2 separate regions of the Homo sapiens genome follow, and region 2 is linked to region 1. Evidence: fine-mapped expression QTL. A gene starts in region 1. The other region holds a variant in brackets. All regions are shown on one strand. Distances are between the middles of the regions.

Region 1 (5,389 bases):
GTTTAATCACACAAATTATTGTATTCGCGATGATGATTTCTGGCTAACAAACCCAAGTTGAGATAAGGACGCTGAACAATCAGCAAAGTGATTTTCTCCACACATCAGTCTCTCAATTATTTATATCCTAGTAACATTTATAGCTATTTCAAATCACTATAGGTCATTTCAAATCAGTATAATTTATTTGCAAATTTAAAAAGCGGCAACATGTAAATCCTCAAATGTCCAGGTCCTCCCAGTTCCTGTACTTCCCCAGTCAGGACAGTCTTCACTCTTCACTGTCATTAGATTTTCTTTCCCCTAATAAACAGTCAAGACCAAGAAGGTTGGCGTCTCCCACCCTTAACAAAGCATGGGTAGTAAATATTTTGTTAATAAGTAAATTAATGTATAGCAAAATACATGTATACATTTTACACATATTCTTAGATTCCTTTCTCTGCATCTAACTGTAACATAATCACAATGCCAACATACAAATTCTGTCTTCAATTAGATAAGATGTTTAAAGCATTGCATTATAGCTATTAGTCTTTAATGCTAGACTGTAAGCCTCATATTTGCTCACCCTATGTCTCAGGATTTAGAAAGCCCACAATGTAGTAGGAACTTAACAAATGTTTGTTAAATAAGTGAAGTCAGTCAATTCGGAATGACAAAACACAAAAGTGGTTAACTTAGATATAGTAAGAGTATTCAAAGGGCAATGCCGTCATACATGGAACACTTTCGGATCTATGGAATTAGAGCAGTCAGGCAACTGACACCCTATGTAGATAATTTTAAGATTTTGACAGGGCTTCAAAGACAAAAACAGCTCAACCTTCTGATCTTCAAACCGAGCCAGCTGAGATCCAGAAAAGTGAACTGTACTTCGCTAAATGTTTGCCAGTTATTGCAGACCCGAATTCACACGTGGGTTTCAGATCTCTTTTCAGTACTACATCCTCACTGGTAAAGGTAATAGAAGAATTCGAGGGGAATGAGCTGTAGGGACTAAAAAATTAGAAACCTAAACTTGGTGGCACAAGAATCAGCAAACAACTGGCTGTGAGTGAATCTTTGAAACCTATGCCAAGGGTTGTCTTTGTCATTAAGCACTGAATATCCAGCTGGGCTATGTTGGAGATAGGGAGTAGCAAAAGGAAGGGAAAGCACTTCTAAATGGCTTCTGTCCCCACTTAAATGGCTGCATGTCATGAGATGATATTGCTAGCATATAATAAATACTGTTGGCTAATGTCTTTAGTGCTACCAAAAATAACTGAACACACTTCCCATTTCCCTCATTTTTTTTTAAGGATGACTATTTCCACTTCCAATTATTATCACTTCTCTCGGTAGTAATATTACTGGCTATTATGTTACTTATATCAAATCAGAAAAAAATGAAAAGCAAAAAATAAACTGATTTAATTCAGCCCATAAATAAGAAAAAAAGAAAGAGATGTAAATACAATTTAGTATTTAAGCTACATGAAGGTAGGGACCAAGTCTATGTTGATCCCAGACGACTACAGACCCAGATATCTGAATTGAAACTTAGGTCATTCCTAATTTCAAGCAAAACAGGGTAATATCTCCTTTCACCCCATCACTCCCCCTGCTCCCAAATTATATTATAATTCAGAGCACCTGCAGTGTAGCAGAAGGAATTCCCCATCCCCTACCTAACTGGGATTCCTGGACAGGACAGGCGAGGGGCACAAGAGACAGTCAGCCTGATTTCACCTAACAAGCTCGGTAAGAAGAGGTCCAGAGTTAGAAGAGTTGGAAAAGGTATAAACTAGCGCGATTCCTCCAAAAACCGCATTCAGAAAGCTTTAGACAGGACAGTCTAGACAGTCCAGGCCCGCGTCTGCAGGTTGCCCGGCAACAGGCGCCGCAGCGCAGGGCTTCTGATTACACTCTGACCTCCAGGGACGAAAAGGTCGTCGGCCCAAGTCCCTTGTTCGTTCTACGCCACCTCCCGCCCCCGCCAATCTGCCTCCTCAGTTCCGCTGCCTGGCTGACCGGAACTGAGCTTGTGGCCGGAGACCCCGCCACGCTCTCAGAAGTACTTGCTGGCTGGAAAACCCAAAGGGGTGAAACCTCAGCTACAGCCGCCGCAGCCTCCCAGGGAACCGGCTCCGCGGCGCCCCTAAACCCCGGCGAGGAGCCGGAGCGGACTCACTCACCCGCGCTTCTCCTGAGCAGGGAAAGGGCCAAAGCCCGGCCCGGATCCACGGCGGTTGTTGTGTAATTCTTTGTCTAATTGAATTCTGTTTAACATATTTCATAAGGCACCTGTCTGTGCACAGAGCCCAGAATGACGTTTTGAGGAGAAGAAATTTAAGCATATGCTACAATATCTGCTCTCAAGGAGCTTGCACTTATTTTTTTTAAAGACTGTAATATATTATATAGAGATACATAGATATTAGACATGGATATTACTTTAAATTTGTGTGACTATGTACATATAGATGATTACATGAATAATTGCATATATATGTATGTGTATTTGTGTGTGTATATATAATTAAAATTTAAAATGATGTGTGGAAAGGGCAAAGGCCTAGAAATCAAGAAACCTGCATTTTATTCTTTGCCTTTTTTTTTTTTTGAGACGGAGTTTCCTTCTTGTTGCCCAGGCTGGAGTGCAATGGCACAATCTCGACTCACTGCAACCTCTGCCTCCCAGGTTCAAGCGATTCTCCTGCCCCAGCCTCCCAAGTAGTTGGGATTACATGCGCCCACCACCACGCCCGGTTAATATTTTGTATCTTTATATAGAGGGGGTTTCACCATGTTGGGCAGGCTGGTCTCGAACTCCTGACCTCAGGTGATACCCTGCCTCAGACTCCCAGAGTGCTGTGATTTACAGGCATGAGCCACCATGCCCGGCCTAAATATTTTTATGTATGCTCTGTACACAATATCTTGGCATCAACTCCTCATCTATAAAGGGAAAAAGCTGGTTTGAGATAATTCCAAGGATCCACTCCACTCTAATATGCACTAACTTTCCTAAATTACACAGCCAAGAGTCAGATATTCAAATTAGAAGTAAGAGTTTATGAAAGTTAATCCAGTTCTTTCATAATCATGTTTTTCTAATCTGCAGTAACTTTTCAAAATTAGCTCCCCTCAGAATGTATGTATCAAAACGTGAATATTTCCAGTATTTCCTGGTGCAAATTTGGGAGTAAAAATACAAATAAATTTTTAAAGTATAAAAATAGTGAAGGAAATGAGGTATAATGTAATCACTCTGTATTTTTCTGCTGCACTCCATAAAATTCATCTATCCATTACCCCCACATAGAAAGAAAAGCAAAAATAAATAGCAGAAAACACACATAAAAATAAAACAGAAAGCTAAATTTAACTTTTTTTTTTTTTTGAGACGGAGTCTCGCTCTGTCGCCCAGGCTGGAGTGCAGTGGCGGGATCTCGGCTCACTGCAAGCTCCGCCTCCCGGGTTCACGCCATTCTCCTGCCTCAGCCTCCCAAGTAGCTGGGACTACAGGCGCCCGCCACTACGCCCGGCTAATTTTTTGTATTTTTAGTAGAGACAGGGTTTCACCGTTTTAGCCGGGATGGTCTCGATCTCCTGACCTCGTGATCCGCCCCCCTCGGCCTCCCAAAGTGCTGGGATTACAGGCGTGAGCCACCGCGCCCGGCCTAAATTTAACTTTTAAAAAGTTATAAAAGAACTTAAAAATTCTGGTGCACCAACTAACCTTGGCCATTCCAGAAATAGATGTTCAAGAAAATAACATTAGGACATGCACTTGTTGATTCCTGGCAATTAGACTTTTTACACCTAAATTGTTTTAGTATTTCTGAATATAGCTGTCTAAGCCATTGGGAACATGATCTAAAAAACATAATGTATACAATTCAGACATTTTATTAAAAACGTCTCTTAGAAGAGCAATAATCTTGGATTATGTTTGACTATATATACTCTACTTTTGCCAATCTTTAAATTCATTACTCTATGAAATTTCTGTTGTTGTTACAGGCAGTTAATTTCTCTATACACTAAATGAAACTAAATTAGCTATCTGTTAACCTTTATCCCTATTAACCTTATCCCTATCAACCTTTACTGTTTTGCAGTTCCAAAAGAGTTTGCATTTGAAGCTCAACTTTAAATTTTCATTTACTTGATCATTCATTAATGCAGCCAACATTCACTGAGTACCTACTACTTGAAAATATTTTACTTTATCTTTGTATTTATTTGTTCATTCAGCCACTTATGTATTTGACAAACATCCACTGAACACCTTCTATCTTCAAATATACCCAGTGTTAGAAAAAGTGAAATATATAAGCTTACCCAGCATTTCCTTTTATGTGATTAAGTCAAAAATATTTATTGAGCCCCTCATATGTATATATACATATATATAACAATTAAAATATAGTTTCTGCTCTCAAGAAGCTTACAGTTGTATACAACATTATTAGAAAGTTAAAGAGAACTCATTTATTTATTCGACCAATTTTTATTGAGAGCCTAAAGATTCAGTTCCTGTTCAAGGTGCTAGAGATGTAGCAATGAAGAAAACAAAGCTACTGTTGTGGTGAAGGCTACAATCTGATAGAGAAGGCAGATGTTAAAAAAATAAATAACATAAATTCAGGAGGTAATTAATGCAATGAAGAAAAATAAAACAGGTTAAATGGATAGGCACTGACAGACAGGGGATATAGAATGATCAGGGAAGACTTCACTGAAGGGAACTCTATAAAGAGCACTGCAGGCAAAAGTAACAGCAAGTGCAAAGATGCTGAGGAGAGAGCATCCTTATCAAGCTGATGGATGTGGCTGATGCAGAATAAGCCAGGAGAGAATGCCAGAGAACTAGCCATGGTCAGATTATGTAGTGTCTTTTGGGCCATACCTAGGACTTCAGATTTTTTATTGTAGCCCCCCACTGTAATGTGAGCCAATTCCTTAAAAGTTCTCTTTCTCTTTGTATACAAACATATGTATATGTATATATGCCTATAGACATCTGTATCTCTCTCTGTGTAGATGTATATATGTCTATAGGCAGACACACACACATATATGTGTATACAAACAGATTTATACATAGAGAGAACTTTACATATATAAATGTATGTGTGTATATGTATGTGTGTATATGCCTATAGATATCTTTATATCCAGGAAGAGACATATATATATAGACACATGTAGATGTATATAACTGTATTGATTTATCTATCTGTATACCTACACACACACATATACACACACACACACACGTATATATGTTCATGTCTTTGGGTGTGGGATATCAGAAGCTCAGTTTGGACTATGTATGTGATATGAAAGTAGTATATACAGCAATTCTCCATTAGCTGGTAGTAGACTAGAAATATAT
Region 2 (5,389 bases), 60 kb after region 1:
GCACAAAGATGTTTATAACAACTGTATTCACATTTGCAAATTGATATGGTTTGGCTCTGTGTCCCCACCCAAATCTTACCCTGAATTGTAATAATCCCCACGTGTCATGGGAGAGACTAGGTGAGAGGTAACTGAATCATGGGGGCAGGTTTTTCCCGTGCTGTTCTCATGGTAATGATTATGTCTCATGAGATCTGATGGTTTTATAAAGAGTAGTTCCCCTGCACATGGTCTCTTGGCTGCCACCATGTAAGATGTCCCTTTGCTCCTCCTTCGTCTTCCACTATGATTGCGAGGGCTCCCAGCCATGTGGAACTGTGAGTTCATCAAACCTCTTTCCTTTATAAATTACCCAGTCTTGGGTCTGTCTTTATTAGTGGCATGAGAATAGAATAATACACCAATACCTAGAATCAGCCAACATGTCCTTCAGTAGCTACTGGAATAAAGAAATGTTGGTACATCCAGAAAATGAAAAATTATTCAGTGCTAAAAAGAAATTAGGTATCAAGCCACGAAAAGACATGGAAGAAATTTACACACATATTACTAAGTGAAAGAAGCCAATCTGAAAAGACTACATACTGTATGACTCCAACTATATGACATTCTGGAAAAAGCAAAACTATGAAGACAGTAAAAAAAAATTAGTAGTTGCCGGGGTTAGGAGGCAGGGAGAGATGAATAGTCTGAGCACCAGGGATTTTTAGGCAGCAAAACGACTCTATATGGTACTAAATGCTGGAAACATGTCATTATACATTTATACCAACCCATGAAATGTGCAACACCAAGAATGAGCCCTAATATACACTATGAACTCTGGGTGGGAATAATGGATAAATGTAGGTTCATCAGTTGTAAATGTACTACTCTGTTGTGGGATGTTGATAATGAGGGAGTTTATGTATGTGTGGGGACAGGAGTTACATGAGAAATCTCTGTACCTTCCTCTCAGTTTTGTTGTGAACCTAAAACTGCTATTAAAAAAGAGTCTATTTTTAGAAAAGGAATTGGTAAAAAAAACAAAACAAAACAAAAAAAACACAGAAGTAGCTCTACCACTCCCTGGCTGGGTGGCCTCAGGCAATTTGATTTCTCTTTTTCTCAGTTGTTTTTCCATCTGTTAAAGGGATAATAACTATTTCTTAAGATTTGTGTGACTTGAGTGAGTTGATATTGTCCAAGCATTTTAAATAGTGCCTGACACATTAAATATTTGTGAAATAGATTAAAAATAGTATTCACCACTCTGTATTGTAACTGTTTGATGATTCATCTGTGTCACCTTTAATTAAAAGCTCCCTGTGGATAGACTCCATGTCTAGCTTGTTCAGCATTTGAGCCTTTAGCTGGGCTGTGACACACAGGAAGTACCAAGGAAATATTTATTGAATGAGATGTCTAGCAGTGGAATGGGCTTCCCTGTTGGTCTAATTATTTAAGAAAAGGATGTGATGATCACCTGTCAGTGATGTTCCGGAGAGTATACCTAACACAGGAGGCTAGCAATAGTGGCTAAAATTTCTTCCAAATCTAAGATTGCATTATTCTATTTATACTTTTTCTTTAGCATTTTTTGCAGTCTAACAACAGTACCACCATAATAAAAGAATTGCATCTTTCAGCACTTGCCACCTTCACCCTTAAATAGGTTCTAGCCATACTAAAATACTTCTAGCGTTTAGGATCTTCCTCTCCTTAGGCACATTACATGCTTTTCCCTTTGTTTAGAATGCTATCTTAGACTTGTCTGTTTCACTTTCTGTATACAATTTCCAGAAAGGCTTCCCTGCTCCTCCACAAGAGTACCAAGCAATAGAATTTTGGCTTTGTATTTATCACGTTTTAAATACTGCCTGATTGCTAATTCACTAAATTGTAAGCTGCTTGAAAGCTGGATCTGTGTCTTGTCTACTGATCTTTCTCAATCACTTAAAACTTACTACTATGCAGTCATAGTAGTAAGTATTCAAGGGCATAAATGAAACCATCTTACATAGGTCTATTGTTTTTCAATTGTGTGCATCACAGACAATTTTTAAAAGCACTTTTCTTTTTATAAATGTTTGGCTAACCTGTTACAATGTTTTGTAGTAAAATTCTCTCCCAATGTCAATTTTCCATATCTGCTTAATGCTATTAAGCACAATATGTAATATGCAAACGTGTATTCCAAAACTAATACTTGCTTTTTTTCCATGCTTAGAATTTAAAGTCTTCAAAGCAAGTTGGTTTTGTTTTGTTTTGTTTTTGAGGAAAATGTTTGGAGGTAAACAGATCAGACCAAAATCAGCTAGATATTAGCCAATTTTGTCTGGAACAAAAAAAGAAAACAAAAGAGTTCGTTCTTACTGTGAATGCCACAATTAGTGAAAAAGATGAATCTTGATATTCCGGGCTGTCTGAATTGTGCTGATGAGAGAAGAAGTAGAAATGTTTTAACCTTTGAAGAGTTTGGTGATCCCTACTCTCCCTTCACTCCCATTTATTTTGTGGTTTCCCACAAAGGTTCATTTAAAAACTGAAAAAAATCTCATCAATTAAGTTGGCCTTAAGAACTTCTTTGGCCTTAAGAACTAGCAATATTTCTGTATTCCATTCTGTCCCTGAGGAAAATAAAAGGCAGGCCCTGCACCAAATTTCCAACTCAACAGGTAATGGGGAAAAAAAATTTAATTGAATTTGTATCTGTATCGCAGAAAAATCATTTCACCTGGCACAATTAGAAGGTTCCTCAGACCTGTTACTCAGCAATTGGCATTTACCATACAAACTGATGACTCATTAATAACGACATATCATTCAGTGTCAGAAATCAATTCGGGATAACATTTCACTACATTAGTTTAGTGAAAAGGGCTTACTCACGTAACACAAGTCTTTCTTTAGTTTGTCAGACATCTATTACCAGCTTTCTTCACTCTGCAGGTCTAGCTTTCCCCTCCTCTCCCCCTCCCCTACCCACTCTCCCCTCCCTCTTCTCTCCTCCCTCCTCCTTACCCCCTCCTCCCTCCTTTGTTTTT[C/T]CCTCCTCCCTCCTCCCTTTCTCCTTCCGGGAGGCGGGACAAGGCTTGCTTGCGTCCTCCGTAGATTGGCAGGTCACTGGGACGGCCAGCGCGTGCGCACTGGCCTGTCAGCGGCCGGTGGACCATGGAGGCCGCAAGGCCCTTCGCCCGGGAGTGGAGGGCCCAGTCCCTACCCCTGGCAGTAGGGGGCGTTTTGAAGCTGCGGCTCTGTGAGCTGTGGCTACTGCTACTGGGTTCTAGTTTGAACGCCAGATTTTTGCCAGACGAGGAGGACGTAGACTTTATCAACGAGTACGTGAACCTCCACAATGAGCTGCGGGGCGACGTCATTCCCCGAGGGTCTAACTTGCGCTTCATGGTGAGGCCGGAAGGCGGTTTGCCGACCCTTCCACTACCGTTGCCACAACGCCTCCCTGGATCTCGGGTAGTTGGGGCCACTGCTCTGAGGCTGAAGGATCGCGGAGAACCGCACTTTTAGCTTGGTTTTTAAAGTACACGTGAAGTTTACACAGAGAAAAACTGCGGACACTCTAACACATGCTTATTACCATGATATTACACAGGGCCAGGACTAAGGTGATGGAGGCACTGGCCTGAAGTGCAGATTTTAAGGGGGCGCCAATTCAAGAAAATGATATTTTAATGCAACGGGTTTTTAAAAATTAAAAATCAGTGCAAAAATATCAATATCAAGGGTAAAGAAAATGTTAAAAAATTTAACAAAGACAGGTTCCTTGGGTCTGGATTAGGGAAAAACAAGTGCGACACTCTCAGGGTGGTGCAAATCAAGATGAGATTCTGTTTGTATTTGAAATTTTTATTTTTAGCTTTTTCCATCATCGATGTCACATTAGCTTTGCCTTTTAAAAATGTTTGTTATCTTGATTTTTTTTTTTTGTGCCCATTCCAAATTTGGCTCCTAAGGAAGTGTCTCAGTTTCCTCACCCTAGTCTTGACCCTGATTTTGCCTTACCTTACAATGCGGTTCTTGCTTTCCCCCTCTTTTACACCCTATAGTCATTTAACAACTCAACTATTCCCTGGTTGCTATTGAGTTTTCCTGACTGTCATTAAAATGACTGAAAATCCGGCAAATAAATAACTGTCCTCTTAGGGAATTAGAAGCTTCAAACTTATAAATTATATTGCAAGGACTACTTTCCTAGACATGTCTTTTCTTCCTTCAGCATTAGTTCTTAGCACAAATTTCAGAAATGGGATAAATAAATTAAGGGTATGATATTTTTTATTAATTTAACACATAGCAATTGCTATGCTAAAGGGTAGTGCCAAATTTAGCAAATACCAGCTGTTCTGTTTTCACCACATCCTCACTGATTTGGACATGTTCAATTACTTGCTAAATGAATAAATTACAAAAATGGTCATTTGTTTTAATGTTGATTTTAAAATACTATTTTGATAGGACATACTTGAGTTCTTTCTTCGTCATTTCCTTTACCTTTTATATTGTCAGCATTTCCATGTCAGATTATATGCTGTCTTATAGAACTATGCTAGCATTTGGTTCTATCTGCTGAAGATACTTTTTTCTAAGCCAATTCTTTTTCTTTTGAATTCAATTATAGAGTTTGGGGATATTTGGGAGTTTCAACTAATTTCCCATTTTTTGTGACTAATTCTGTTTCTTCCCAATTTGAAGATTATCCTTACTCCTGAAAATTAATAAACACATAATACTTTCTAATACAACTTTTCATAGGTTTTCTATCTCATCTCTAAAAATTATATAGTATTTCAAACATAAGGTATATAAAATAATATACCTGTATACCCACAATCGATATTTTTAAATATAGACATTTTTAAAGGAATAGTATTTGATATATAGGTTAAAGTCCCACCCTAAATTTTTACCTTTTTCTTCTTTCTTGAAGTTAATGTATATTTTTCCCATGTATTTTATTAGGACATAAATATTAACTGTAAATAGTATAGTCTATCATAATAGTATGGCCTATTTAAAATGTTTCTTTAGCAGATTTGGACATCACTCAGCTTATTTAAACTCTTTTATTGGTTATTTTTAGTATTTTAATGTATGTACTTTTTATAAATTCCAAAAGTTAATACCTGTAAACTCCACCCAAATATTAATAAGATCTTAGAACACAAATTCTGAATACTTTCCATCCTTATTCATGCTATTGCCGTGTAGTACTTTTGTTCTACCTTGCTTTTAAATACCAAAAAAATTGTTGTTTTTAAAAAATTGTATTACAATATACAGGACATAACATTTACCATTTTAACCATTTTTAAGTGTATAGTTCAGTGGCATTAAGTACATTTGCATTGTTGTGCACCCATTACCACCACCTATCTCCAAAATTTTTTCGTCT

What was found. PIP is the estimated chance that this variant, and not a neighbour inherited with it, causes the effect.
Region 2: its variant is fine-mapped to the expression of CAPS2 in blood mononuclear cells (TOPMed, PIP 0.99).

Annotation. Positions count from the first base shown.
Region 1 is chr12:75,328,194-75,333,582 of GRCh38, forward strand. CAPS2 (calcyphosine 2) reads right to left here and starts at 2,131. Exons shown (of 17, transcript NM_001355024.4): 1 at 1,674-2,131. RefSeq lists an enhancer at 2,038-2,087.
Region 2 is chr12:75,387,967-75,393,355 of GRCh38, forward strand. It overlaps GLIPR1L2 (GLIPR1 like 2), which reads left to right and starts at 3,123. Exons shown (of 6, transcript NM_001270396.2): 1 at 3,123-3,384. The coding sequence starts at 3,151. It also overlaps a transcript of CAPS2 not described here. RefSeq lists a silencer at 2,925-3,097 and an enhancer at 3,055-3,184. The variant C/T (reference allele first, on the strand shown) is at 3,027.